Linked DNA regions of Homo sapiens. The protein of the gene in region 2 interacts with the protein of the main gene of each other region in a pairwise test. Each region holds a gene or a part of one and is shown on either strand. Other genes may lie near its edges. The genes, in order: USP32, TRIM74, LRSAM1 and MGRN1.

What was found.
Region 1: the proteins of TRIM74 (region 2) and USP32 interact in a two-hybrid assay, tested with the Homo sapiens proteins (one large-scale study listed by BioGRID).
Region 3: the proteins of TRIM74 (region 2) and LRSAM1 interact in a two-hybrid assay, tested with the Homo sapiens proteins (one large-scale study listed by BioGRID and IntAct).
Region 4: the proteins of TRIM74 (region 2) and MGRN1 interact in a two-hybrid assay, tested with the Homo sapiens proteins (one large-scale study listed by BioGRID and IntAct).

The regions. Positions count from the first base shown.
Region 1 is NC_000017.11:60,204,206-60,212,497, forward strand, and holds part of USP32 (ubiquitin carboxyl-terminal hydrolase 32), read right to left. Parts: intron 7,894-8,292; coding exon 7,819-7,893; intron 7,310-7,818; coding exon 7,171-7,309; intron 6,914-7,170; coding exon 6,808-6,913; intron 5,339-6,807; coding exon 5,165-5,338; intron 4,624-5,164; coding exon 4,449-4,623; intron 4,006-4,448; coding exon 3,854-4,005; intron 2,928-3,853; coding exon 2,816-2,927; intron 1,454-2,815; coding exon 1,242-1,453; intron 1-1,241. UniProt on the Homo sapiens protein: Deubiquitinase that can remove conjugated ubiquitin from target proteins, such as RAB7A and LAMTOR1.
Region 2 is NC_000007.14:72,961,111-72,969,402, forward strand, and holds part of TRIM74 (tripartite motif-containing protein 74), read right to left. Parts: 5' UTR 8,175-8,292; intron 5,844-8,174; exon of another isoform or gene 5,723-5,843; intron 5,066-5,722; 5' UTR 5,048-5,065; coding exon 4,649-5,047; intron 336-4,648; coding exon 240-335; intron 1-239.
Region 3 is NC_000009.12:127,493,010-127,496,509, forward strand, and holds part of LRSAM1 (E3 ubiquitin-protein ligase LRSAM1), read left to right. Parts: intron 1-2,310; coding exon 2,311-2,409; intron 2,410-2,954; coding exon 2,955-3,086; intron 3,087-3,500.
Region 4 is NC_000016.10:4,684,475-4,692,766, forward strand, and holds the end of MGRN1 (E3 ubiquitin-protein ligase MGRN1), read left to right. Parts: intron 1-1,784; coding exon of another isoform or gene 1,785-1,825; exon of another isoform or gene 1,826-4,321; coding exon 4,322-4,434; 3' UTR 4,435-6,498; downstream 6,499-8,292. UniProt on the Homo sapiens protein: E3 ubiquitin-protein ligase. Mediates monoubiquitination at multiple sites of TSG101 in the presence of UBE2D1, but not of UBE2G1, nor UBE2H. Plays a role in the regulation of endosome-to-lysosome trafficking.

The DNA.
Region 1 (8,292 bases), on a different chromosome or scaffold from region 2:
AACCCCAAAACAAAAAACTTTTCCGAAGCCATCCGCATTTACGTGGCAGTGAAGATATACATACCTACACAAACACACAGGAAACATAAATTTTGTGTGTGTTGGTTTTTGTTTTTTTCTAATTTTTTTAGAGACAAGGTCTCACTTATTGCCCAGGTTGGAGTGGAGTGGTTATTTACAGGTGTGAGCATCATAGCATATTATAGCTTCAAAATCCTGTCCTAAAGGGATCCTCCTAAACATGCCTGGCTTAGGAGATACTTTTTTTTTTTTTTTTTTTTGAGACAAAGTCTCACTTTATCACCCAGGCTGGAGTGCTGTGGCGCAATCTTCGCTCACTGCAACCTCTGCCTCCTGGGTTCAAGCAATTCTCCTGCCTCAGCATCTCGAGTAGCTGAAGCTACAGGCGCATGCCACCATGCCCAGCTAATTTTTTTATTTTTAGTAGAGATGGGGTTTCACCACATTGGCCAGGCTGTTCTCAAACTCCTGACTTCAGGTGATCCCCCTGCTTCAGCCTCCCAAAGTGCTGGGAGTATAGATGTGAGCCACCGCACCTGGCCATTTTCTTTCTTTCTTTCTTTTCTTTTTCAGACAGGGTCTTGCCCAGCCTGGAATGTGTGGGGCAAGCAAGCATGGCTCACTGCAGCTTTGACCTCCTAGTCTCAAGTGATCCTCCTGCCTCAGCCTCCAGAGTAGTTGAGACTATAGGCACACACCATCATGGCTGCTTAGTTAAAAAAAAGAAGTCTTTTTTTTTTTTTTTTAGAAGAGACGAGGTCTCACTATGTTGCCCAGGCTAGCCTTGAACTCCTGAGCTAAGGTGATCCTCCTGCTTCAGCCTCCCAAAGTGTTGGGATTACAGGTGTGAGCCACTGCACCCGGCCAGGAGACACAAATTTCTAAAGAAAGTAGTACTCAGATGCACTGACTATCCTGTTGCCTCTTAATATACGGATAAGGAATGTCATTTCATACATTAGCCACCATGAGTAATACTAAATCCTGGCTCTGATCACTTATATTAGCATATATAATACATTGAAAATGCATTCACAGCAACAGATTTTGAGGACAGGATAAAAAAGTAAAAAAATAAAATTTGTAAAATTATTAAATTTTAAAAAATTAAAGAAAAGAAGAGAAGAAAATACATTCAATGATGTTGCAAAGACAGAAAATGACTATTTCACAAATGACACTAGCAAGACTGGCAGTGAGTTGCCTAACATTTAACTAACCATTTTTCGGTGGACTGCAATGATGTAACCTGTAAAGGGGCTGTCAGGAAGAGATGGCATGTGACCATTAACCATTCCATTTGTGAAGTTCTTCTCAGTTCCACATGGCACAACAGTGTTTGGCATTCCATTGGGGATGAATATTGGTCGGGGTAGGTCCCCATTGGTAGTTAGGGTGAACATTTCATTTGTAGATGGCGAAGAGGAGAAATCTACAAATTCAAAGATAAGTACAGTATCATAAGCTTGTGGTATTTTCATCTTTGCTCTTTTCTCAAGTATCCTGAGGACCAGAGACAGTGTAGTCTCTTAACACAGGGCAGGGAGAAATCACAGTATAAATAATTCTAGATTTATTGGAAGATTTTAATTTTCCAGTTTTACTTCCCTAACTCACACTTTTGGCCAAATGAAAAGGAAAGAGTAACTGCTGGAAACTATTAAGCAGAATTTTTGCAGAAACCTGTATCAGCACCATGTTGTAGCACACAAACAGTTCTACCACTTGTTTTCTTTTCCTTCTCTTTGCCTTTGAAGACACTGTCCAATACAGTAACCTCTACCCAGATGTTGCATTTAAAATTTAAATTAGGCTGGATGAGGCAGCTCACATTTGTAATCCTAGCACTTTGGGAGGCTGAGGTAGCAGATCCCTTGAACCCAGGAGCTAGTGACCAGCCTAGGCAACATGGTGAAAACCCATCTCTACAAAAGATACACCATAGCTGGGCATGGTGGTACACGTTTGTAGTCCCAGCTACTTGGGAAGCTGAGGTGGGAGGATTGCTTCAGCCCATAAGGCAGAGTCTGCAGTGAGCCAAGATGATGCCACTGCACTCCAGGCTGGGTGACAGAGTGAGACCATTTCTCAAAATAAATAAATTAAATTAAATAAAAATTAAAAATGCATTATTCTCACTCACACTAACCACATCTCAAGCGCTTAACAGTCCACGTGACTGGTGGATACTGTATTGGATGGCAAAGATCACAGAAGTTTCCACCACTGCAGAATTCTATTGGACAGTGATGCTCTAAACTAAAACTAAAATTAGAACATCCACCAACTCACCGTCAGGACTATCTACCTACTACACATCAATGAGGGGAGCCTCATAAAGCCCTTTATAGTTGGGGAATTAGCCTAATTAACCTAATTGTAAGTAATATAAAGAATAGACAAAGCATACTAGTGGCTAAAAGGACTCAGTGAGTGACCACATTAAATTACATATAATATTGGATTTCTTTCTAGCTATATCTATTGTTTATATTTTCTGGTAGTATGTTCCTCTCATACTAGCTGTTGCCATGTTATATTAGATACAAGTTCAAAGAGATCTGAATTCCAAGGGTATATTAGCTAACGACTACCTATCTAACTGAAGTCACTTGGGTTCTCTAAATTTTAGGTTTCTCGTCGAAAAAATATGGAATAATCAGTAAGGTTTCCCTTGGGTTCCAAAATTCTTCTGCTATAATATCCTCAGCATGAACAAATATAAAAAAGATGACAACTCTTAGACAAATATTTAAAGGAGCAATCATGAGAAGGAGTTCTAGTTCTATCTTACCTGTCTGTGTTGGACTAGAAGCTGAAATTGGAGACACAGGGACAGGAATTTCAAATGCACACAAAAATCCACTCACTGAGAGTCGTACTTTTTGGTTGTCCTGAGGAAAGTTCTACAGAAACAGAAGCAAGATGAGAAGGGGGAGATGTTTCAGATAAAATGGAAAAGTTCTCTCTCTAACATATTTCAAAAGAATGTCTTAGGCGCTTTCATCCGTAAAACCAACGAGATGATTGAATAATTTTTCAACTACATAAAGGATGAATGCTTGATAAAAATAACGGAAAACTAACCTCAATTTTCGAACTATTATCTCTTTTCACAGGAAGAAGTGTGTTATATACGACTGACTTCAGTTTTGTCCGTTTCAGGGATCTAAATTCCAACCCTCAGAGACTCCATTTTTGCATTTCATATTAAGAAACTGTCAGTGAGGTGAGAGTGTGTTCAGAAATCCCAAAGATGAATATAAATAATACCAGTTGCAGGAGCTTAATTTAGAGTAGGCAATATATTTATTAGATTATTTGTTTCCCCAGCTGGTATGTAGAAAGACATGATTGGTGTCAATTTGTCTTTACTCTTAATTTCTTAGTGTGTTAAAAGACCAAGTATATATATTCATAAATACTAAAAACACACATTCATAAATACATAAAATACTTTAACCTAGGAAGAATTCTAGTAACAGCGGTAATACAGAAGAGTTGTCAAGGGTAATAGCAGCAGTCTTTGGTAACAGCAGCAGTCTTTGGTGGAAACCTATACTATAGTGACACAGCTAGAACACTCCATATAGGCAGCCTTACGTATTTCCCTTCTTCAAAAATACCACCATCAGTATTATCCCTTTATTCTGGTAGAAAACTCTTAAGTTTCTGGGTTGGAAAACTTGGCATTTTTTGTTGTTGTTGTTCAGTTTTCGTTATGTTTTAGTATCTCTCTTGGTCACATAACCTAACAATTGATCATAATAATTGAGAAAAATGTCATCTTTGGAGGATAGAATCAAAAGTTTCTTAGAGTAGTTAATATTACCTTTATGTTGGAACCATGTACTTCTGCTAGAAGGATTTGTTCTGAATTAAGTCCACAGAGATCACTCAGCTGTTTTTTTAAACCTGTGTACTTTTCATCCATATTCAGTCTTAGTCCATACCGTACAGGGGTAGTACCATCTAACTTAATCACTAGTAAAGAGAAAAGATCTTTTATTGGTAAAATGCAGGTTTCATTGAAAGTCTTAAATGCTGTGTACAGATATATCTGACCTGTAAATATAATAGCAAATATTTCAGCCTAGAATTTTTATTTTATGTGTAAACACTAAAACAGATGGTACTTAGGGATAATATTAAGTGAAATCAGTATTTTTTTGGTGTTCATCTGACATAAAAGTATCAGTGGCTTTGCAGGGTTTTAAAGAGAGTTGCTGGCATATTTGAAACCAAAAAAACATGCCCCAGTCTACATCTTTCAAACCTCAAGTCATGCCTAAAATTAGGTTGCTCAATTATAATATGCTGACTACCGGTCTTTATTTGTAAACAAATAACTATGCTTACAAATTCAGGCTATTTAAATAAAGTAAATTTAATGGAGTCAAGTAATTTTTCAGAACTTTCTGACCTACCTGTTATTTCTAAGTGCATATAACTGTCCATTGGTAGTGGCAAAGACAAAAAATTGAAAGGGTCAAATCGGACACTTATATGCCCACATGTCTTGCATTTTACTTGAGATCTTAGCTGCCCATGGAACAAATCCACAACAATTGATCTATTTCTTCTTAGATGGTTGTCCCAGGCCTAGCAATAAAAAAGATGAGAATTTTCTCTCAAAATCCAAAAGAGAAGCATTTCTATATAAATTCAAAGAAGCTAGTTAAATATATTGGATTTAAATGTAAAGAATATAATCCTTACTCTTCATTTAACATAAAATATTAAATTGAGATGGAAAATCCTATTTTTCATTTGTTCTTATCAAGGTAACAATGGTAAATATTAAAGTTATTTGTCCATTAACAAGTATAAAGCATGCCTATAGGTCACTGTATCCATTACTTTAGCAATTACGGGGACTCTTTAAATTCCACTGGATAATTATTCCTACATCCAGTCCCATAAAGTTTACAATATGAAATGGCAACAGTTTTCTATTTTCATTAAACGTATTTTTGTTTTGGCATTATTGCATAAGAATTAAGCACAGAAATAGAAATTCATTCATTTTTGCAGTAAAGTTCTGATCTCAGAATAGTTGAGTTTGCATTTAAGTTGTGCTACATGTATTTGTGGCCAGAACATTTTGTCTATTGCTTACATTAGAAACTCAAAACTGACAAACCTCTGCAGCTACTTCCCAGTCTGGTCGCCCATCACTGTCCTTCAGTTCCACATATGGCTTTTCATGGACTCGATTAAGATCTTCATGAAGACCATCCAAGAGAAAAGCCAGAAGTTCTTGGGAGTCCTGTTGCTGAAACCCATTAAACCTGGGAGCATATTTTGCTATGGTCCACTATAAATATAAGAGAAGTCACAGTCATTATTTCCTACCCATAAAATTTGGAATGAACATGTCCTATAATCCAATCAGAGCCATTGTAAGAAAATAAATAGTATAGTACTTAGTCTGCCTCTATTTCAACAAATATATTTTGGATAATCATGAAATCTTTTGAATCTTAATGTCAAATGACCCCCCCCAAAAAAAGAGAAGTATTTTGGCCAATACTGTGCAATACTGTGTCCTCAGTTCAGTATTATGTAAGCAAACTGTTCTTCAGGCACACAGATGTTATTTAAGACAGAAACATTAAAACAGCGTTTGCTCACATTGAAAGACATCCTGTTCTATAACGTTTTACATTTTTATATGCATATAAAATATGTATATTTTATAGGTACATAGTATATACATAACATATGCATAAAATAATGTGTATATAATAATACATAACATGTATAAAATAATATGTGTATACATTATTTTATATAATATAATGTTGTCTTCAACAATTACATTTTCTGGTCTTGTTGCATCCTAAATTTTATTAACTGCATTATATTATAGAATTATTTTGAGGATATAAATTAATTAGAATAGTGCCTGGCAAGAGGTAAGTAGTCAAATGTGTAGCTGTTATAGTTAATAATTTGTAATATAAAAAGCTTTTGCTTTGTATTTAAATAAAAATAATGAATAATCCTAACTTCACTAAAATCTACTACATCTGATATTAATATAAAACTTATATTCATTAGTTTCATTCATTCATCCTTCTACTTTTTTTTTTTCTTTTTGGAGACAGAGTCTTACTCTGTTGCCCAGGCTGGAGTACAGTGGTGCGATCTTGGCTCATTGCAAACACCACCTCCCAGGTTCAAGCGTTTCTCGTGCCTCAGCCTCCCAAGTAGCTGGGATTACAAGCATGCACCACTATGCCCGGCTAATTTTTTTTAGTAGAGACAGGGTTTCGCCATCTTGTCCAGGCTGGTCTTGAACTCCTGGCCTCAAGTGATCCACCCACCTCGGCCTCCCAAAGTGCTGAGATTACAGGCGTGAGCCCCTGCGCCCAGCCTACTTCTTTGTATTCTACAGATAGAACTATCTTAGTTACGTTGAAAATGGATTGGATTGGATGTAATTAATAAGACTCTGAGGTCCACCTTGCAGTTAGAATACTGCTAATAGTGAAGTATTACCAAAAAAGGTTTACTCTTCATATAAGATGTTTGACAAATTAGTAAAATGAATGACATCCCGAATTTAGAGTGTACCTTTGGTCTTTATCCTACCCACTACATATACAGTAGTAATTTTGCATATATTTAAACAAGCAAAAGAATTTGACCTTTTGTTTATACCAAGTGAAGGATCCAAAAACATTTATTAAGTTAAAAGGCTAAACACAAAAAACAAGCAGAGAAAAATGATTAAACAACTATTAGGAATTAAATACTTTTATATTATTTTAACCTGCTTACCCGAAGCTTTAATGGGGCAACATTCTTCTGAGTTCCACTCCAAAGTTCCTGCACTAAATCACCATAGCATTTAGCCATATGCCCCTTCATACCAATGGGATTTGTCCTAGAAGTTTGAGAGGAAAATTTGTTGCCAAAGATTCTCATAAATCACAATCATGTGGGCGCAAAAATGCCTAGCATCTCACATCAAAATATCTTTTCTTTTTGAAACAAGAGATGTATTCCTTGGCCTATTTCATATTAAATAGGGCAAATAAGATAAAATCTTTCTCCCACAGGGTGAAAAAAGAGGAAATTTAGGTGATATTGGGTTTATATCAAAGTCACAGGTTAAGAGGCCAGTGACTCCAGAAAGATTACCTGTTGAGTTCATAAAGATGTCTCCCTGAGATAAAATACTGTGTCAGTGGCTGTGTGTTACTAACACACTGGATGCTTGAGTTCATGAAGCATGTGTTTCCCAGATTGCTTAGACCTGTGGCTCCCTTTTCTGTGGGAACTGGAACAAACAATATGAGAACCAAAGCTTAGCTGTAGTAATATGCCATGGCACAAACAGTTACTTATATTCAATGAAAAGGTTTTTTATAACTCTCATAATCAGCTAAATGGTGCTAATAATTCTCTAGCAGGTCTCTGAAATGCTAGAGAAGGCTTTTCATGGAGTGTCTGGCAACAGTGATGATCCATGCTCATTTGTAACCCAGAAGCAGCAATTATTCTTTTTAATTGCTATGATTTTTCAAAATAATTCAAACAATTCTTCTTCTAGTATGTCTTTTAAAACATATAAATTATTTAATTGCAGAGTTAGAAAGAAATTTAGAAAATAATTTGATGGTGGGTTTGCCAACATCAAATGCTGCTTCAGGAAAAAAGAAAAAGAAGAAGGCCCTAATTACTTTTGAACTAGAAAACCAAAAGTTGTTAGCACTTTAACAGTTGAGAGAAGAAAAAAAAAGAATACATTTAAAATAATCTCTTTAAAAAATAATACTGGAGACTTACCCTTGTGTCTATCTATTTTACTACTATTTGCTATAAAAGACATCTCCTCAGGCCAACTCATATCTTTGTTGCGAACTGGAAGGACAGATAGGAATGTGTTAATTTCTTATCTATCTAATTTATACCCATTCGATTGCTTTTTTTTTTTAAAGACATCTTATTCCTAAATCAGAAGTTTTAAAATCTAGTTAATTTTAGTACATACATTGCTTAACGACGAGGTTATATTCTGAGAAATGCATCATTAGGTGATTTTGTCTTTGTGTGAACATCACAGAGTGTACCTACACAAACCTAGGCTATGTATGGTATAGGCTGTCGCTCCTTGGCTACAAACCTGTACAGTATGTTACTGCATTGAATACTGTAGGCAAGTGTAACACAATGGTAAGTATTTGTGTATCTAAACATGTTAGAACATAGAAAAGGCACAACTAAAAATACAGTATTATAATCTTATGGGACCACTGCTGT
Region 2 (8,292 bases):
CTGGGTTATCTCAGTCTCAAGGACACAGAGGGCAAAAGCCAACTTGGAGCCAGTCCTAACGACAACTGGGTTGAATTCCCCTGAGAGGATTTGCGCTTTCCCCACCCCGCCCCGGAATGCTTTGAGTTCTGGCTTTATATGGAAGGCATGGTTTTCTGTAAAGGACCAATGAGAACTGAGCTCTACAGGAAAGTGAAGGTGGCCGGTCCCAGGCAGGGGCAGAGGGAAGGGGCACTCACGACGATTCGGGTCCGGTTTTTCACCAGTTTGGCGATGAGCTCATCCACCTTCTTCTGCTCCTGCTTCAGCTCAGAGAAGAGGGCTGCGAGCTCCTCCTGGAGGCAACAGGCCATGGCCCCATGAGCAGCTGATCCCTCCCCTTCTCAGCTCCTTGGATCACCTTCTTGGGAGTATCCCAATGGCCACAAGCACTCCCAGGGAAACCAGGGCGGGAACCAGAGCCACCCAGGTACCCTTGAGTCCAAAACAGGTTAAATTGTTCAAGAATAGTCTGGGCGCAGTAGCTCACGCCTGTAATTCCAGCACTTTGGGAGACTGAGGTGGGACTTCACTTGAGGTCAGGAGTTTGAGACTAGCCTGGCCAACATGGTGAAACCCCATTTCTATTGAAAATACAAAAATTAGCCAGGTGTGGTGGCACACACCTGTAGTCCCAGCTACTTGGGAGGCTGAGGCACGAGAATCGCTTGAACCTGGGAGATTGATGTTGCAGTGAGCTGAGATCATGCCATTGCACTCCAGCCTGGGTGTCACAGTGAGACTCTGTCTCAAAAAATAAAAATAAAAAATAAGATAATTCAAGAATATTCTAAGGGCCGGGCGCGGTGGCTCACGCCTGTAATCCCAGCACTTTGGGAGGCCGAGGCTGGCTGATCACGAGGTCAGGAGATCGAGACCATCCTGGCTAACACAGTGAAACCCTGTCTCTACTAAAAATACAAAAAAAATTAGCCGGGCATGGTGGCGGGCACCTGTAGTCCCAGCTACTCCGGAGGCTGAGTCAGGAGAATGGCATGAACTTGGGAGGAGGAGGTTGCAGTGAGCCGAGATTGCGCCACAGCACTCCAGCCTGGGCAACAGAGCAAGACTCCATCTCAAGAAAAAAAAAAAAGAATATTCTAGGCTGGGCACAGTGGCTCATGCCTGTAATCCCAGCACTTTAGGAGGCCAAGATGGGAGGATCACTTGAGGCTAGGAATTTGAGACCAGACTGGGCAACACAGTGAAATCCCATCTCTAATGTTTTTTTTTTCTTCAAAGAATATTCTGGGCCGGGCGCGGTGGCTCACGCCTGTAATCCCAACACTCTGGGAGGCTGAGGCGGGCGGATCACGAGGTCAGGAGATCGAAACCATCCTGGCTAACACAGTGAAACCCTGTCTCTACTAAAAATACAAAAAATTAGCCGGGCGTGGTAGCGGGCGCCTGTAGTCCCAGCTACTCGGGAGGCTGAGGCAGGAGAATGGCGTGAACCTGGGAGGCGGAGCTTGCAGTGAGCCGAGATCGCCCACTGCACTCCAGCCTGGGCGACAGAGCGAGACTCCGTCTCAAAAAAAAAAAAAAAAAAAGAGAATATTCTGCATTGACAGCAGGAACTTCCCAGGCATAAGAGGGTCTCGATGTCACCCCTGTGCATGACATGGAGACAGTCACTAAATGTTACAGCTACCAGAAGTCACCATGTGATGCTGGCACTTCCTGGATTGAATGCTGCCTGTAGGGGACCCATCAGGTGAACTCTGTGGTCACCAGCAGATCCAGAATTAGTGGGTATTTAATCAGGAGCCATCACAAAAAGGCCGGCGCCAGGTGAGGCTAATTCTAGGGCCAGTGGTGCTCACACGGGCCTGGGTTTAACCTGGTGAATCCCCACACCTATAAACACCTGAATCCATTCCTGGTGGGCTTGGACACAGCACGGATTTGCGACCTCCCCAAGCTGACATAAATGCACTTCTCCTGGACTGCCCGGGCCCCAAATCTGACCTAGCCTTGGGGGTGCCAACCAGGACTCCTGGACCACCATCTACTCCATGACTTGACCAGAGCCCCCGTCGGTTTATACCCATGCAATGTACAGAATTTTTGGCTTGGATCGTGCCCAAGCACCAGAGAGCTGCAAGGGGCTTTCAGGAAGGGAGTTGGGTAAAGAATCAAGCACTTGCTGGCATAAACGGACAGAGTCCTTGCTCTGGAGAATGAGGCATCAGAACATCTCACAGAGGCCTAAGAACAGCATTCCAATGTCACCCTCCCCAGGCAGACAGACGGGACTCATTCCTTCCCCGTGAGAAGAACTAAGTTATGCAAATCAATGCACCCATCAATCGAGCATCTCAAGATCTCAATAAACAGGAGGCAACGGGAACACCTTAAAGAGGGCAATAAAGGAGTGCAATTTAGTTGTATTCTGTGTTGCAACAGAGAAGAGCCTCGGGATCATCAAAACCCAAATCTGGCCGGGAACAGTGGCTCATGCCTGGAATCCCAGCACTTTGGGAGGCCGAGACGGGAGGATCACTTGAGGCCAGGAGTTTGAGTCCAGCCTGGACAAAATAGTGAGACCCTGTCTCTACCAAAAAAAAAAAAATTAAGCCCAAATCTAAAACAGGGACCCAAGCTGAGCTGCTGGATCCTAACTACAAAGGACAGACAATCTCCCAGCCTGTTCCCTCCCTCCTTCCCATCAACTAATAAAACATAAACTCGGCTTCCTCACCTGCAGTTGGCTTCCACCTTCCATACTCCCCTAAACCTGCTCTTGCCAAGATAATCAGTTCTTACTGCTACATTTAACACTTTTCAGTCCTCAGAGACATTTCACACACGTGATCTCCTCCTTCAGTCTGTCTCTCTGATTTCCGGGAGGCCACACTCAGCCGGTGTTCCTGCTCTGAGGATTCTTTCTATTCCTTTTTCAGGGCTCTCTCTCTCTCAATCCAGATTTTAAGCCTGGTACCCCTTGGGGTCATCATCAGTGTCTTCCCTTATCACTATGTAGACTCTCCTGGGTTGGTCTTCTCCACCAAAGGGGACTTCAGTGACCACCAAGAGGAAGGACCCTCCACACCTCTTGCCCTGAGCCCCACCGCTGTCCTGGTCTGCACACCCCTCAACCCGACTGCACATCCCCAGGCACCTCCCGCTCCACCTGCCCACGCCGGATCCTCCCCTGCGATCACTTCCTCTGTGCAAGGGGGAATTACAGAGCTGGAGTCAACCTCCCCATCCCTCACCCTCCTTGCCACACACAGTTGTCAGGGTTTTTTTCTGTTTGAAATTTGTCTTTGGTCTGCCCCAGGCCTTTGTCCCAGTTCCCACCAACTTAGGTCCTGGCACCTTCATCTCTCACTGTCCTTTTGCCTCACCCTCAAAGCTCCCCTCTGCCAGAGAGATCTGAGCATGTCATCACTGGCTTAAAACACTCCAGCCCCCGCCTTTCTCCCTCATCCTGTGAATAAACTCCAAATCCATTCCCGGGTCACACTGGCCTCTCCATGCCCCAGCCGCAGCTTACCTCGCTGGCCCTATCTCGCCCCCACCCATGCTCCCTCCAGCTTTATGCTGGGATTACAGGAGTGGCCACTGCGCCTGGCCAACCAGGCTAATTTTGAAACTTTTGTAGAGGCAGGGTCTCACTATGTTGCCCAGGCTGGTCTCAAACTCCTGGACTCAAGTGATCCACCCACCTCGGCCTCCCAAAGTGCTGTTATTATAGGCATAAGCCACCCAGTCACGTGTTTTATAACAGGTGTTTTATATATATAACACCCAGTCAGGTATTATTATTACTCATCTTAAAGAATGATCTGCTAGGTTTGGTGATGGCCTATAAAGGCAGGAATTCACTGATTCAGCATTTTGGACATTTACAATGTGCCAGGCATGGCTCCAGGCACTGAAATACACCAGGGGACAAAATGAAGTCCCCACTCTCATGCACCAGAGAGTGCAAACAGGGGAGTGTCCAGACACAAACAAGGGGCGTAGGGCAGTGGTGCATGCCTATAATTCCAGCACTTTGGGAGGCCCAGGCAGGAAGATCGTTGGAGGCCAAGGAATTCAACACCAGCCTGGGCAACATAACCAGACCCCATTTCTACAAAATATAAAAAATGAGCTGGGCATGGTGGTGTGCACCTGTAGTCCCAGCTGCTCGGGAGGCTGAGGTGGGTGGATTGCTTGAGCCTAGGAGTTGGAGGCTGCAGTGAGCCATGATCACACCACTGCACTCCAGCCTGGGCAACAGAGTGAGACGCTGTCTCCAAAAAGAAAGAAGAAAAAGAAAGGGGGGGCGGGCGAGGGAGGGGGAGAGAGAGAGAGAGGAAGGGAAGGGGGCGGGAGAGAGAGAAAGAAAAAAAGAAAAAGAAACAAACCAGAACTGCAAACAAAAAACAGGAAGGGGTGAGCACGTGACACCAGGGAGCTCCCATCCTGTGCGTGTAGCTTCAATCCCCAGCACCTGGGTTTAGCTGCCGCTCAAACACTAAGGAATGAATGCGCCAGGGCAGGGCTGCAGGGAAATCGAGGATAGCTGGATCCGTTTTGGTGCCAGTTGATAGCGCCAGAGAGCACAGGATCCAGTCCCCGCGGGCCCCGCCGCCCCGCCTGCACCCTCACTCCCCACCTTCATGCGGCTGCAGACGGTGGAGACGGGCGTGACCGGGTGGTGTTGGTGGGAGCCCAGCAGACCGCAGAGGCCACAGATGAGCTCCTGGTCCTTCTCGCAGAAAAGGCTGAGCGGGTTCCGGTGGTGCACGCAGACCTTGGGCTCCGGGTCCCCAGGGAGCCTCAGGGCTTCGATCACCCAGGCCAGGGAGACGTTGGGCAAGGAGCTGCTGCCGTCCACCACCTGCCAGCACATGGGGCAGCGCACCTTGGTGTCCAGGTGGTAGGACAGGGAAACCAGGCAGCCCTTGCAGTAGGAGTGGCCGCACTGTAGCATTAGGGACTCCTTGAAGACCTCCAGGCAGATGGGACACTGAAGCCAGTCCTCCAGCTCCAGCAGGCTCACCTGCCAAGCCATCCACACTCACTGCCCGGGCTGAAACACAGGCATCCGACCTCAGTCCTGTCCACTCCCCTCCCCCTGTCCAGCACTCACCCACCACCCTCAACCCTAAGGAGCACCAGAATTTTATAAGAAACACTTTGAGTCCTGGATCCCAGTCCTAACCCACATGACCTTGGGCCTCAGTTTCCACAGCTGTAAAACAAAAGACTGCAGTGAAAAAACTGGTCCCTTGAAGATACGTGTGTGTGTGTGTGTGTGTGTGTGTGTGTGTGTGTCTACATTTTTTACTCAAATTTGGAGACAAGCATGAAAGGGGCCATCTGCAGGGTCATTTGCAGTGACACTAATAATGCAAGGTCCAGCCCCAGCATGCATCCGGACCTAGAACTGAACAGCAAAACCTAGGCAAGCTCCCCACCTTCTAGATCAGTTCCCAAACTTTCAGGAAACTGTTGAAAGCATAGGTGTAATAGAGATTCTAGAGGCCCACCTTCAAAGGATCTGCTTCAGGGGGTCTCCAGTGAGACCCAGAACTCTACACTTATAGGTGACACTCCCAGGTAATTCTAGAGAGCCTGGAACCTACAAGGCCTCTACCCTGATCTCCCACCTGCTCCCCTATGAAAGCTTGTCAGTGAGACAGAAGAAGCACCAGAAGCCCCCAGCGAGAGCCCGACATTGGAATACCTAGCTTCTCAGGATCCACTGGGCCTCCCACTATGGCCTCAAGCCAGCATCACTGGCTTTTCTTCTTCCCAGCAGGGAACAGCAGGCACAGAGTCAGAAGTGGGAAGTGCAGCTGGACGCCTGCACCACTGCCTGGTCTCTGCCCCTTCTCTCCTCCCCTTCCCCAGCAACACCCCTGTGTCCCCAAGGTCACCAGAATCAGGTGGAAACTGGGTTACATCACAGGACTGGGGAGGCAGCCTTTGTTGGGCCTGCTCTGATAACATTCAAGTGCTGGCCTTGGCCACTGTGGAGGAGGGGCAGAAACAGAGGGACTAGGCACACTGTCCACACCTCACGACCCCGACAGGAGCAGACAGGTGCTGGGAAACAGTTCTTTCTGAATCTCAATCTCTTGCTCTTATATCCTTTTTTGGGGGGGGTGGGGGGCTGGGGGGCAGGGGAAGACAGTGTCTTGCTCTGTTGCCCAGGCTGGAGTGCAGTGGCGTGGTCACAGCTCACTGCAGCCTCCAACTCCTAGGCTCAAGCCATCCTCCTACCTTAGCTGCCTGAGTAGCTGGGACTACAGGCACGTGCCACCATGCCAAGCTAATTTTTAAAATTTTTTTTGTAGATACCGGGTCTTGCTTTGTTGCCCAGGCTGGTCTTCAACTTCTGGGCTCAAGCAATCCTCCCACCTTGGCCTCCCAAAGTGCTGGGATTACAGGCATGAGCCTTATTGCACGCAGTCTTCCTTCTCTCTCTCTTTTTTTCTAATACAAACTGGCAGATGATGGTTCGATCTCTCGAATTTTTTTTTTTATTTTATTGTTTTATTTACTTTAGTAGAGACAGGGGTCTCACTTTGTTGCCTGGGCTGGTTTTGAACTCCTGGCCTCAAGCAATCCTCCTACCTCAGCCTCCCAAAGTGCTGGGATTACAGGTGTGAGCCGCCGAACCTGGCCTCTTTTTTTTTTTTTTTTTAAAGATTTGAAGGTATCTTTATTTACTTATTTAGATTTTTTAAATCGAGGTATAACATATACAAGTGTGCAAATCTTAACCACACAGCTTGATAAACACTTGATGTATATACGTGCACTCTCAAGAGCAAGATGTACAGTGTTTCCAGAAAGCTCCCTCCTGCCTCCTTCCAGTCATAACTCCTAACAAGGACAGCCACTGTCCTTATTACCATGTTGTCATGTGGCCTGTTTTTGAATGTCACATAAACAGCATCATATAGAATGTACCCTTTTGTGTCTGGTTTCTTTCACTCAATAATATTAAATTGTGAGTTTTTTTTTAATGTGAAGTCTTTCAACGTTTAGAAATTCAATGACACTCTGTTATACAGGTTTTGTTTGTTTGTTTGTTTATTGAGACAGAGTTTTGCTCTTGTTGCCCAGGCTGGAGTGCAGTGGTGCAATCAGGCTCACTGCCACCTCCACCTCCCGGATTCAAGTGATTCTCCTGCCTCAGCCTCCCAAGTAGCTGAGGTTACAGGCGCCTGCCACCACACCGGCTAATTTTTTGTATTTTTAGTAGAGAGGCGGTTTCATCATGTGGGCCAGGCTGGTCTCAAACTCCTGACCTCGAGTGATCTACCCACTCTGGTCTCCCAAAGTGCTGGGATTACAGGTGTGAGCCACCGCGCCCAGCCTGTTACACAGTTAATGAATATTATGGTCATAATATACTGCTGTGGTTTGAATGTATCCTCCTAATTTCATGTGTTGGAAACGTAACCCCCAATGGGGCAGTATTGAAAGTTGGCTGTAGCCTACGCCTATAATCCCAGCACTTTGGGAGGTCAAGACTGGAGGATCGCTTGAAGCCAGGAGTTCAAGACCAGCCTAGGCAACAAAGCTACAAACCATCTTACCAGCAAATTAAAAACTAAAAAATAAATTAGCTGGGCCTGGTGGTGCACGTCTGTAATCCCAGCTACTTGGGAGGCCGAGGCAGGAGGATCTCTTGAGCCCAGGAGGTGGCGGCTGCAGTGAGCTGAGATCCATCACTGAACTCCAGCCTGGGCTCAGAGCGAGCCTCTGTCAATCGATCAATCAATCAATCAATCAGTGTCTTGTCTGGGCCTAAATTCTCTAGAATACAATGGAAGAGGGAAAGTGAAAGAAGGTGGAAGTAACCCACAGCTGGGAGCCCTGAACCCTGCTGGTGGCAGGTGGCTCTCGTGTCCTCACCAGGTTGCCCTGCAATCACATGCTGCATCCTTTTTCCTGAACCTGCCCCACGTGCCCCACCACGCAGCCACTCCGAGGGCTCCTTCAAGGGCGGCAGCCCTGTCACTCACGTGTTCCAAAAGTGCTTCCCCTGTGCCCTGACGGCCTCGCCATGTGTCCCATCATGCCCCACGCGCTCCCACTGTGCGCCCCACCTCGCACCCGTGCCCCATCATGCTCTGCGTGCTCGTTAGGTGCCCCATCATTTCCCGCTCGCTCTCATTACGTACCCAGCCTCCGGCCCCTGTAAGTGCCCCATCGTGCTCTCTGTCGCTCCAGTTAGATGCCCCATCCTGCCCCGCGAGCTCCAATTACGTGCCCCACCTAACCCCCCATGTCCGTGCCCCA
Region 3 (3,500 bases), on a different chromosome or scaffold from region 2:
ACTGGAAAGTACAAAGGAAAATAATTGCATTTCCAAGCGTTATCTCCTGCCATTTTTTATTTGTTTGTTTGAGACAGGGTCTCACTCTGTCGCCCAGGCTGGAGTGCAGTGGCGCAATCTCAGCTCACTGCAGCCTTGACTTCCTGGGCTCAAGCGATCCTCCCACCTCAGCTTCCCGAGTAGCTGGGACTACAGGCATGTGCCACCATGCCTGGCAAATTTTTTTATTTTTTGTAGAGATGGGGTTTCGCTATGTTGCCCAGGCTGGTCTCCAACTCCCGGGCTCAAACGATCTGTCTGCCTTGGCCTCCGAAAGTGCTGGTTTTACAGGCATGAGCCACCGCGCCTAGCCTCTCCTGCGGTTTTGATGCATATTTTCCAAACATTGTGATGCACCTTTATAGCTGTTCGTGTATGCGCCTTTTAAACGTGGCATGCTGCATACCCTTTTCGAGCAGCCTGTTTCCGCACATTCTTTTCAAGTCATTAAACTATTCCTTGACGTCCTTTCTCAAGGCTGTCCGTGGCCCCTATTGTTGAGTATGTGGATTACTTCTGGTTTTTAAACTTTTCTAGGCAATGCTCTCCGAATGCCTTTGTAGTCGAGTATTCGGGAACAGCCATGAGTATTCACTCCAGACAGGACTCACTATGTCCAGGGCAGGCCGTTTGATAAGCTTTTGGCAGGAGTGGCCCAGCTGTCCCTGTCCCCTGATGGGTTTGACACTGGCACATTTTCAGCGTGGCAGAGGCCCCCTTGAGAGTGTCTCCTCTAGACCCAGAGGGCACCCAAGCAATGAGGACAGAGGCCAGGCTCACCATCTGGGGTGGAAAAGACCGAGTCGTTCCTGTGTCCCCGTGAATGCACCAGATGCCCTCTGAGCTGCGTCCTAGGCCGGGTCCTGTGCAGGTTTAGAAGAGAGAGACCAGCTGCTTCTGGAGCCCTGAACAAGCCAAGTGGTGCCTGTGCCCATCAGAGGAAGCTGCCTGTTCCTCACGGTGCCCTACTGCCATCTCCTACGCATCAGGTTACTTTGCAGATGGTGCCTTGGCGCTGTGCCTTAGCAGCCAGGTACTATGGCTGGTGCCCCTGCCCTTGTAGGCCTTGGGGGTCACCACCAAAGGAGGAAGCACCGCCCCAGCAGAACACAGCCCATCCGGCTCCTGGGCGCTGGAAGAGAGGGGCTGCAGCCCGGGAGGGCCAACGACGGAAGGGAGCAGTGGGCGTGGCCAGGTCCAGGAGGGGCCCGCAAAGGGCAGTCAGGCCCAGCAGGGATTGAGAAACGCCTGTGTTGATCCCACTCCCCATGTCATGCCAGCCCTCACTGAACAGCTCCGTTGTTCTGAGCACGGGCTCTGGAGCAAGACAGGCCTGGGTCCAATTCCTGGCCCCACCCTGGGCAGGTTACTCATCACCCTGAACCTCAGCTCCCTCACCTGGGAGGTAGAATCTCCTTCCCGGAGTTGTGAGAATTAATGATGGCATCGTTAGGTGCACAGCATGGTCTGGCACATGGCACTGTGAACATGTCAGCTACGCCTGTTGTCACCGTGGCTGTTATCAGCATTGTTTGTTCACTGCTGTATTCCCAGCACCTAGAACAGTACTCAACGAAGAGTTATCGAATGGCAGAATAAAAGAATCACATTCAGGCTGGGTGCAGTGGCTCACGCCTGTAATCCCAGCACTTTGGGAGGCCGAGGTGGGCAGATCACTTGAGGTCAGGAGTTTGAGACCAGCCTGGCCAACGTGGTGAAAACCCCATCTGTACTAAAAATATAAAAATTAGCCGGGCATGGTGGCACACACCTGTAGTCCCAGCTACTCGGGCACTCCAGCCTGGGTGACAGAGCAAGAGTCCATCTCAAAAATAAAATAAAAGTACCAAGTGCTGTCCACCCGCTCAGAGGAGCATGGTTCATAACCATCATTTTGGTTTTGTTTTGTTTTGTTTTTTTGAGACGGAGTTTCGCTCTTGTTGCCCAGGCTGGAGTGCAGTGGCGCGATCTCAGCTCACTGCAACCTCTGCCTCCCGGGCTCAAGAGATTCTCCTGCCTCAGCCTCTCGAGTAGCTGGGATTACAGGCATGTGCCGCCATGCCTGGCTAGTTTTGTATTTTTAGTAGAGGTGGGGGGTTTCTCCATGTTGGTCAGGCTGGTCTTGAACTCCCGACCTCAGGTGATCTGCCCACCTTGGCCCCCCAAAGTGCTGGGATTACAGGCATGAGCCACCGCGCCTGGCAACCATCATTGTTATTACAGGTTTTATTACCATTTTGTGACTAACATTGCCTGCTTCATTCCTGGCAGACGGAGTTAGAAGCCAAAAGTGAAACCAGGCAGGAAAATTACTGGCTGATTCAGTATCAACGGCTTTTGAACCAGAAGCCCTTGTCCTTGAAGCTGCAAGTAAGGACTGCTGGTGCCTGTCCCGGCCAGGGAGCCCTGGGGACCTCCTCCCAGAGGCGCCTGTGGTGCCTCCACCATGCTCTGCCTCTTGTTACTTTTCTGGTGACTCTAGCATGCCAGATCCTGTGCCAAGCCCCAGTGGAGACAGAAGCGAGAGTAAGGGAGTGTTCATTCTGGTGAGGGGGACGACAAGGCACTGGTCACTGCTGTGCAGGGCAGAGACCACTGAGCCCACAGTAGAGCAAAGCCTGTGCCGGGAGCCACTGTCTGTCCAGCACCTGCGGGGACAGAGAGGCAGTTGAAACAGCCCCCTCTTGGTGGATGTTCAAGTTGCTTACTATTTTCAGGTTTGCAGACAGAGCGGCAGTGAACCCCTGGGCCTATCTATCTATCTATCTCTGTGTGCCTACCTATGAGTTTTTGTAGGAAAAATCCCGAGTACATTCTATGTATTATGTTATAAATATTCAAACCCTTCATTTCCTGTTGTAAACAGTGGGTTCTTTTCTTCCTTCCTGCTCATGGTACACGTTTCTGTCTTGCAGGAAGAGGGGATGGAGCGCCAGCTGGTGGCCCTCCTGGAGGAGCTGTCGGCTGAGCACTACCTGCCCATCTTTGCGCACCACCGCCTCTCACTGGACCTGCTGAGCCAAATGAGCCCAGGGGACCTGGCCAAGGTGGGCAGCAGCCGTCTGCATGGAGGGGAGGGGCACGCAAGGCCGCTGTCCTGACCAGCCGGGGGTTGATCTGCTCCTTGTGTAGTCCTCGTTGAGGCCTGTCCTTACCTAATGGCCCAGGGCCACCTTGCTTCCAGATGGCCAGAACACCTGCCCATCTGCCCCAGCCGCCTGTGTGTGCCCTGCACACTGTCTCACTGGGAAATCCTGGGGAGGTGGGTCCTGCTGACCTGATCAGACTGGATCTTCAGACTGGAGGGACAAGACAGGCCCTTGGGGCTTATCTGATCCAGCCTCTGCCCTGCCTCATGGTGTCACAAACTGTCGTGGCCACAGCACTGCCTGAGCCCCTGTTCCTTTCTGGGCACAAGCTGAGCTCTTTACAGCACATTAATCCACTTATTCTTCAAAACA
Region 4 (8,292 bases), on a different chromosome or scaffold from region 2:
GTCACCCTGCCCCGGGCCTGACAGAGGCCACCTGATGCAGCAGCACATCCCAGGCCAGGCACAGAGGACGGCGGGGGCGCCAGGCGCCAGCGGGGAACAGCAAGGCAGCAAGGCTGGGACAGAGGGTTGCTCTTCTCACCTTTCCCGGAGGCTCGGGCCCCAGACCCCATCAGCCAAGCACCTTCGTGCTCTGCTCTGCTGGGATAAGATCCTCAGTTTCGAATCCTAAGCTCTAAAGACCGGGAGGGAATGGGGGCTCTCAGACTAGTGTCTCAGCACCTGCCACGAGGCTGTCTGCGGCTCTGGAACTGCGATAAACAGCCACGGTGCTTTCAGACATGACCCCAGAGCCACTGCTTAGGGAGTGTGGCTCTTCCCTCGCGGCTGCCAGGCTTCACCCGCTTCCTGGCCCCAGGGCCCACCATTGCTCAATCCTCCTGAGTCACCTGGTGACCTGGGCCTGACATTGGGTGGTTGTGACGTGCTTTAGTTGGAAAGGGGCTCTTGTGCCCCCGGACTCTGGCTGAGCAGTGGCCTGTGCTCATGGGCTGGGCGTGACAGGTCGCAGGTGCAGGAGCAGGCACTGCCTCTGGTGCCCTGATGACCACAGCGGCCTGCCCCGAACAACTCACAGCAGAAGGTGTGTTTAGGACCAGCTTACCTTAAAGTGACACAGAATTCGAGTAAGGTCTTTCAGAGGATCTCAAATATTTCATTCTGATTAAAAACTTGGGGGGTGATCGGGGAAGAGGCCAGAAGGACCTCAGCTTCTGGGAGCCACGAACATGATATCTGATCCTGCAGGGTGGCCCTGTGGGGGAGCATCTCAGAGGCTGCGCCTCCCCTCTGTGGCCAGGCCTGGGAAGGATTGGGACAGCTACAGAGGAGGCCCACACAGAGGAGGCCAGGACTCCGAGTCTCATGCCCCACCCACAGGGGAGGGTCTCGGGCCTTCTTCAGGCCCACAGACGGGGGCAGGCAGTCGTCATCTGTGGAGGCGGTAGAGGAGAGGCCGAGTCTACATCGGGGCAGCCTGAGGTGAACTCCTGGGCCCTGGGCCCCGCTCTTGGAGTTGGCTGCTGCTGAATGCCAGCAGGTCAGCCTGCACGGCCTCAGTTCTGAGCCACGGAGAGCACATGTGCCTTTGGGGGCTGTTTGGCGCCATCTCCGTGGCTGTCAGCCTTGTCAGCACAGGTTTCTGTGTGTTTTTAAATCCATGTGGTGGCCCCTCTGTTCCACTGACTTTTTCACATCACAGAGCCCTTGACTGTCTATCCGTGTCTGTGCGTAAGGCATGAACACACGCCAGAGCCTTTGGTTTCTCATAGGGGTGCAGCCGCTGCCTGGCGGGGTGGGCGGCATCACTGAACCCTGCTGTCCCTGTAGATGGGAGGGCCCATGAGATGGTGAACACTGGGGGCCCTGGTGTCTTGGACTTGGCCCTGAGCTCGGTCCTGTCTAGCCTCAGCCCCCCACCCAGGGCCTTCACTCCTGAAACCAGAGGTGGACTGCGCCCGTTAGGTCCTTCATGCGCCCTTCCCTAGGCTGCGGCAGCGGGAGGTATGGGAGGGAGGGGCAGGGCCAGTGCGCTCCTCCGCGTTGAATTCTGGCTGCGCTCTGCCTCCCAGCTGTGGTTCTCCTTGTGGTTCTCTGTGGTTGCAGCAGAGTGTTTGTTTCTAGACGGCCTCGACCGTGTCCCCAAGCTGGTGCCCTTGCTGTGGCTGTGCTGGCTGCTGCGCGCTTGCTAACCGAGCTTCCGTCTGTCTCTCCCCCTCTCCGCGCAGCCCTGGGGCCCGACTCCTGCTCTGTTGGTATAGACGAGTAAGCCGGTACGTGACCTCCCAGACGCGCTTCGGGGGCTCTGACGCGCGTCCTTGGAGAGAGGAGCCCTCCCCTGCTCTCTGGCGGGGGTTCCTTCTGGTTTTTGGGTCTTCGTCCGCATCCGCATCTTCCCAGGGGCCCTGGATTCCGAATCCAGAGCTCTCCAGTGGCTGCTGCACCTTCCCCCAGAAAGTGGCCTCCTGGGGGGTCCTGACTTTCGGGGCCAGAGGTCTCTCCATCTGGACTAGGCGGCCGGTCAGGCTCTTCTTCCAGCCTTGAGGGGCCCTGGAACAGTCCCAGCCCAGGCAGGGAGACAGACACAGCCCAGGTGCGCCAGAGCCACTGTCCACTGCGGGAGGCAGGAGCTTGAGGGATGAGGGCAGCACCGTGGAGGGAACCCCAGGGAGACATGGGGTGAGCGTCCCAAGGGGAGAGGCCTGGGCCTGGCCTTGTTCCGGATGGTCCCACCATGAGTTCGCATCGGTCCTGCAGCAGACACGTTAGGACGCTCAGCAGGTCCACTCCCGTGTTCCGGTCGTGGCTTTAACAATTCATGGGGAAAGAATGCGCCCCGATTGGGAGAGCCCCTGGATCACGTCTTCCCAAGCTCAGTCCCTGTCTCTTGGAGGGAGTCCGTCCTCGAGGGGCCCTCTGGTGCCCAGGGGAGAGTATCTTGCGTCCTGTCCTGAGGGCGTCCGCTCACACAGCCACCTGCTCCCCCGCTCCCTCCTTCCCTTGTCAGCATGGCCACCGTGGGCCTGGCATCACCATGGGCCTGGCACACAGTCCCTCGTGGGCTGCCTTTGTGCCATGAGCCCACTGCTGCCGACTCACCTGTCCCTCCCAGTACTGGAACCTTCTGGAACACCAGCACTAAAAGATAGGAGGCCCTGTGAGGTTGGCATCCCCCATCCCCCCCAAGAGGCGCCCTCTACCAGGGTGGCCCAGGTGAGTGTTTTACAGAAGGCGGCTCTGTCCAGGCAGTGGTTCGCACCTATAAGCCCGGTACTTTGGGAGACCGAGGGGATAGATCACTTGAGCCCAGGAATTCAAGATCAGTGTAGAAAACATAGACCCCCTCTCTATGAAAAATAAAAAATTGGCTTGGGCGTGGTAGCTTGTGCCTGTGGTCCCAGCTACTCAGGGGTGCTGAGGTGGGAGGATTGCCGGAGCTGGGGAGGTCAAGGCCCACTCCAGCCTGAGACGCTGTCTCAATAAAAAAAAATACACACACACCCACCCACCCACTCCAGCCTGAGACCCTGTCTCAAGAAAAAAAAAATACACACACACACACACACACACACACACACGGGGGAGAGAGAGAAGGCAGCTCCAGGAGTGCCACCAAAATGTAGGCAGACGGATTGGGGACCCTCTGCCTTCCCAGAGGGTCTTGGCACACAAGCTGCGTGCAGCTCTGGTCTGCCGAGGCCCATGCAGCCTGCTGGGAGGTGCCTGGCCGGGGGTGCAGGCTCTAAGAGGCCCTTTCCCCTTGGGTGGACTTGAGCCGGGTCAGGGAGAACTTCGCTTCTTTTGACTGCGCTCTGCATTCCCATGAACCTCTGTCTTCTTGAGCCCAGCGAGTCCCTCTGTTGACCCCTGTCCTGAGCCATTATACCCCTAGATTGAAACAGTCAGCACCTTTCAGACGGCCCCGGCCTGCGCATCGGTGGAAGGTGCCGTGCGAATGTCACGATTCAGGTCAAGCTTCCGGAGCTGGGGAGTGCAGGTGTGATCTAGAACAGGGCTCACAGCCTCGGAAACCTGCTCTCGCCGCGGCCCCCGAAGAAAATAGACGCCCTTCACCGGAGAGTGGGGCCTGGGCCGTGTCTGCTGGGAGCCATGTGTCAGGGCTGGTGGCTGGGTGTCAGGCAGCCCTGAGGCCATGCTGGCCCCGTCCCAGGCTCTGCACCAGCACCATTGCCCAAGCCCCAGGGACGCCAGACCCATCTGGGGACAGCGCCCGGCGGCGTCGTGCAGGCCACAGTCTGGGCATTGGGGCTCTGTGGGAGGCTCCTCTCTTTGCCTTGCAGTAGCCATCCGGGGGCTACTCTGAGCACGGGCTTGTTCTCACCCAGGGCCGCTCCCCACCCCTGCACCCTGGGTTGACCGAGTTCCACCCTAACCCAGCCGTAAGAACCTTGGCAGGACAGTGGCTGGCCACATCCCAGGAAACCGGAACCAGGGCAAGGGCAGGAGGCCCAGAGGGCATCCACCGCGGTGCCGTGTCGCGCTCTGACTCGGGGCTGCAGATCTGCTGTGGGTGTCCGGGGATCTGGGATCGTCTGTCCCAAGAGGGACACAGCGTATTTGGCACAGTTAGGGAGTCCCCGGGCCCTTGGTGTGCTCACATCTGAGTGAATGCTGTTGTGGCCACAGGCGGCGGGAGTGGGGGTGCTGGATGGCCCAGCCCCTCTGGGGCTCCAGATCGGTAGGAGCGGGTGGCGTGGCACCAGGCATCCGAGTGTGACCCTCCTCCCTCTGCTCCCACCTGCAGGACGGCCCACCTCCATGGAGACGGCCCACGGCCTCGCCACCACCAGCCCCACCTGGCCTCCACTTGGTGGCCCCAGCCCCGATCCCAGCGCCGCCGAGCTGACCCCACTCTGAGAGCCTGGCCGAGCTGGCAGCATGGAGCCCTCGGCTCCCCAGACTTTGCCGAGGGGCTGCTCCGGACCCCGTTGTGAGCCGGCCTCCTGTCTGCATGCCCCCTGTGGCCACCAGGCTCCGAGGGGCCGTGGTGACTCTTGATCAAAGAGCACAGTGAACTGTCCCTTCTGAGTCTCCCTTTTCTACAGTTGATATATTTGTAACTGGTACAAGATGAAGGACAGCAGCTTTCCATCCCTAGTTCAGAGCCCCCGTTCCCCAGGGTCCTGTGGGCTGAGCGGCTGGGGCTGGGGCTGCCCACGTGTGGCCTCCGCTGGCTCTGCCTGCTCCTGCAACAGTGCGGTCCCTGCCCGGAGAACTCAGGAGGCCTGCAGAAGAGAACTGATTGGTGGTCGAAGCACCATCTTCACAGATGTTCAGGGGCAGTGGGGGGCTCCAGGCACGGTCAATGAAGGAAACAGTGCCTGTCCACCCACCCTGCGTGTCACTGTGGCGGCCTGGCTGTCGCTGCTTTTTGTCCTCTGCCGTGTTTGCGCGGCCTCAGTGCCCTCCCTGGTGCGTCTGCGCTGGGGCCCTCAGTGCTCGGGGCCTTGGGGTGCATGGGTGCCGCCCTGGGCAGCTAGAGTGTCTCAGCCCGGTGCTGGGCCTGGCCGAGGGGCGGAGGCACAGCTGCTTCCAGCAGCCAGCATTCAGTGGCCTTGTCACCAAGCTCCACACCTCCTCCTGGTGCTGGCTTTGGTGACATCACAAGGCCCCTCCAGGTGCAGGGGCTTCTGTTTGGCAGGCCCCTGCCAGGGAGGACCTGGTGGCCTCCTCATTCTCTTTTGCCATTGGAATGTCCCCTTGCAGTTCTCTTCTCTTTTTTTTTTTTTTTGAGATGGAGTTTCACTCTTGCTGCCCAGGCTGGAGTGCAGTGGCTCAATCTCGGGTCACTGCAACCTCCGCCTCCCGGGTTCAAGTGATCGTCCTGCCTTAGGCTCCTGAGTAGCTGGGGATTACAGGTGCCTACCAGCATGCTCGGCTAATTTTTTTGTATTTTTAGTAGAGAAGGGATTTCACCATGTTGGCCGGGCTGGTCTCAAACTCCTAAGGTCATCCACCTGCCTCGGCCTCCCAGAGTGCTGAGATTACAGGCGTGAGCCTCCGCGCCCGGCCCCCTTGCAGTTCTCTCTGATTTGGTTTGTTCTGTCTCAGGCTTCTGTGGCAGGACTGGCCCAGGGAGGAGGAAGCCAGCAGCACACCTGGGGAATGGGGTCCCGGCCGGGAGGCTTGGCCTCTGGGCGACCTCGTCCTGTTTTTTTTGTTTGTTTGTTTGTTTTTTTAAAGGTAAACCTCCTGGGCCGCAGATGGCAAAGGGAGTGCCTGGGCCTGGTGACCCAGGGCTGGATCCACCCCTGCGGAGCCCTGGGCCAGGCAGGTGTCTGCTGCTCACCTGGCTCTGGAGGGCTGCCCTGCAGCTGGGCCTGGGGACAGGTCGGCTGTGGGGCAGCTCAGTACCCTCCCTGAGGCTCACGGTGGCTCCGAGCATGAGGTCCGCCTCCTGGGCGAGACCCAGCAGTGGACAGCATGGTCCTCACACCCAGCTCCCTGCACACCCAGGCCAGCCACCCCTCCCGCTCGTGCACAGGCACGCAGATGCGCTCACACGTACACACACACAAATGCACGCCCACTTGCACATGCTCACGCACATGTTCACACATGCACACTCACGCTCACACATGCTGTCACGCATACACACACGCACATACTCCTGCACATGTTCCCATGCATGTGTGTGCACTCGGACCGAGCATCTCCCACGCACCTCTACCCCACCCCAAGCACCTCTCTCCCCCCATGCACCTCTCCCCAACAACACACACAGCCCCCTGCACCGCCCGCCCCCCGCCCCCACCAAGGCCCCAGCCTCTGGCCATCAGTCCTGGTGCCAGAGCTTTGCGTGAAGTTCGGGCCGCAGAGTGGCCCGCTGGGACTCCCATGTGCTGCCGTCTGATGTGCTCAGATGGGCTCATCGTTGGTTCGTTTTTACTGTATATTTATAGTAATAAAATCATGCAGCAATATCCTGTCTGCTCCTTCCTCCGGGTGCAGCCCTCAGGATTGTGGCTGTTTCCTGACCCGGAGTTTTGCCGCTGGGTGGTTGGCGGTGGCTCCCGCACCGTGGCAGCTCCACGGCCTCTGCCTGGCTTCCCTCTGGGGTCAGGGCAGTGAGCAAGGTGAGGGCTAACGAGAACGGGCAGCTCCCAGCCATCCCTGTCAGGGCTAGTTGTCTGGTTGGAGGGAAGCCACACCCTCCAGATTGGGCTCTCTCGTGAACAGGTGGTTGGGGAGCCCAGGGCCTCCAGGTTTGTGAGTAGTCGCTCCGGTCCCCATCTCTAGTCCTGATCATCTCAAGGCATTTGCTGAGCACCTGCTGTGCGTCAGTGGAGGCAGAAGAGCTGAGGCCCCGGCCCTGGCCCCGGGCGCCTGCCTTCCAGGCAGTGAGATGCCCAGCAGCTAATCAGAATCCTGCCAGGTTTGGTTACTATTAGGAAGAAAGTCAGCATGGTGGTGAGATGAACCCGTACAAGGTCTCATTTAACCGGGTGGCAGGGAGGGCCTCTCTGAGGAGACTTAAACAGCCCTGAGGGCTGAGGAGGAGCTGGCCCTGGAAGAGTGTTCCAGGTGGCAGGAGTGAGCCTGATGTGTCCCCTGGGGACGGAGCCCCTGGCTGGAGTGAAGGGTGCTGGATAGATACTGAAGAGCTTGTAGGGGCTGCTGGAGTGTTTTTATAAGGGGGAGTCAGTTTTAAAAACAGGCTTCCAAGCGGAGAAGCAGTGCTAGCACCCTGCGGCTGGCGTGTGGAGGCCGGACGGTGGGAGCAGGTCTAGCTGCCCATGGTTGTGGGCTCGCAGGCTGGAGCCCGGCCCCAGGCCTCTGCACAGCCCCCGCTCCCCTGCCCAGGGAGTGGCCAGTGCCCCAGGGCACCCACCACACCACTGCCTACCACTCAGGGCCCCAGCTCCTTTGCGTGCAGGTCAAGCTGCCACCATGGCCCTTCTTTGAAGACTGTGAGGGTGGAGGGAAAGCCCGTGTTCTAGCCCATCAGTCCCTGCCCCGAGAAGGCTGCCACCCATGGGCCCTGCAGCTGCTCTGACCTGCCTGGGTCTGGCCCCATCCCAGTGTGGGTAGAGGGGTGCCCAGGGTGTCAGACGGGTGCTTGCATGGGCCAGATGGGCTCCCCCTCTGTACCTCCCAGAAGAGCCAGCGCTTGTATTGATGTCTGGTCTCGGGGAGGGGCTGCAGCAAGGGGAGCCTCTCCTCCTCTGCCCCTGCGTCCCACGGGCCCTGGGCGCTGGCTGGGCTTGGCTGCCTAGGGGTGGGGCCCTCTTTGGGTGAGAGGACCCTTCCCCTCGCTGCCCTCTCGCCTTCTCACATGGTCGCTCACTCTGGAATCTGGACTTCCCCTGCTGCTTGCAGCTGTCCCATGTGACCCCTGACCCACTGGTGGCCACAGGAGGAGAGAGAGGTGCCCTCTCTGGGTCCTTATTCTCCACATCTGAGGCCACCACGGACCTAACAGGTGAGTTTCCAATGCCCACCCTCTCCCTCTCTCTTCTCCTGCCTGCCTCCACTGAAGGCAGCCTTCTCTGTGCCAGCGAGCTCGGCCTCACTGCACGGCTCTCCCGAGGCTGTGCCCCAGCCCTGGGCACCCATGCTGTGAGTGCAGGCAGGGGGGTTCATGTGCTCAGCAAATCCATTCCCCTGGTGGGGAGGAAAGTGGCCCTGGGCCCTGCTGCTGGTGAGGTGAGCCTTGCCATCATGGAGTTCAGGGCACCTCGCTCTGCCTTGGGCTGTTTCGGATGCTTCTGAGCC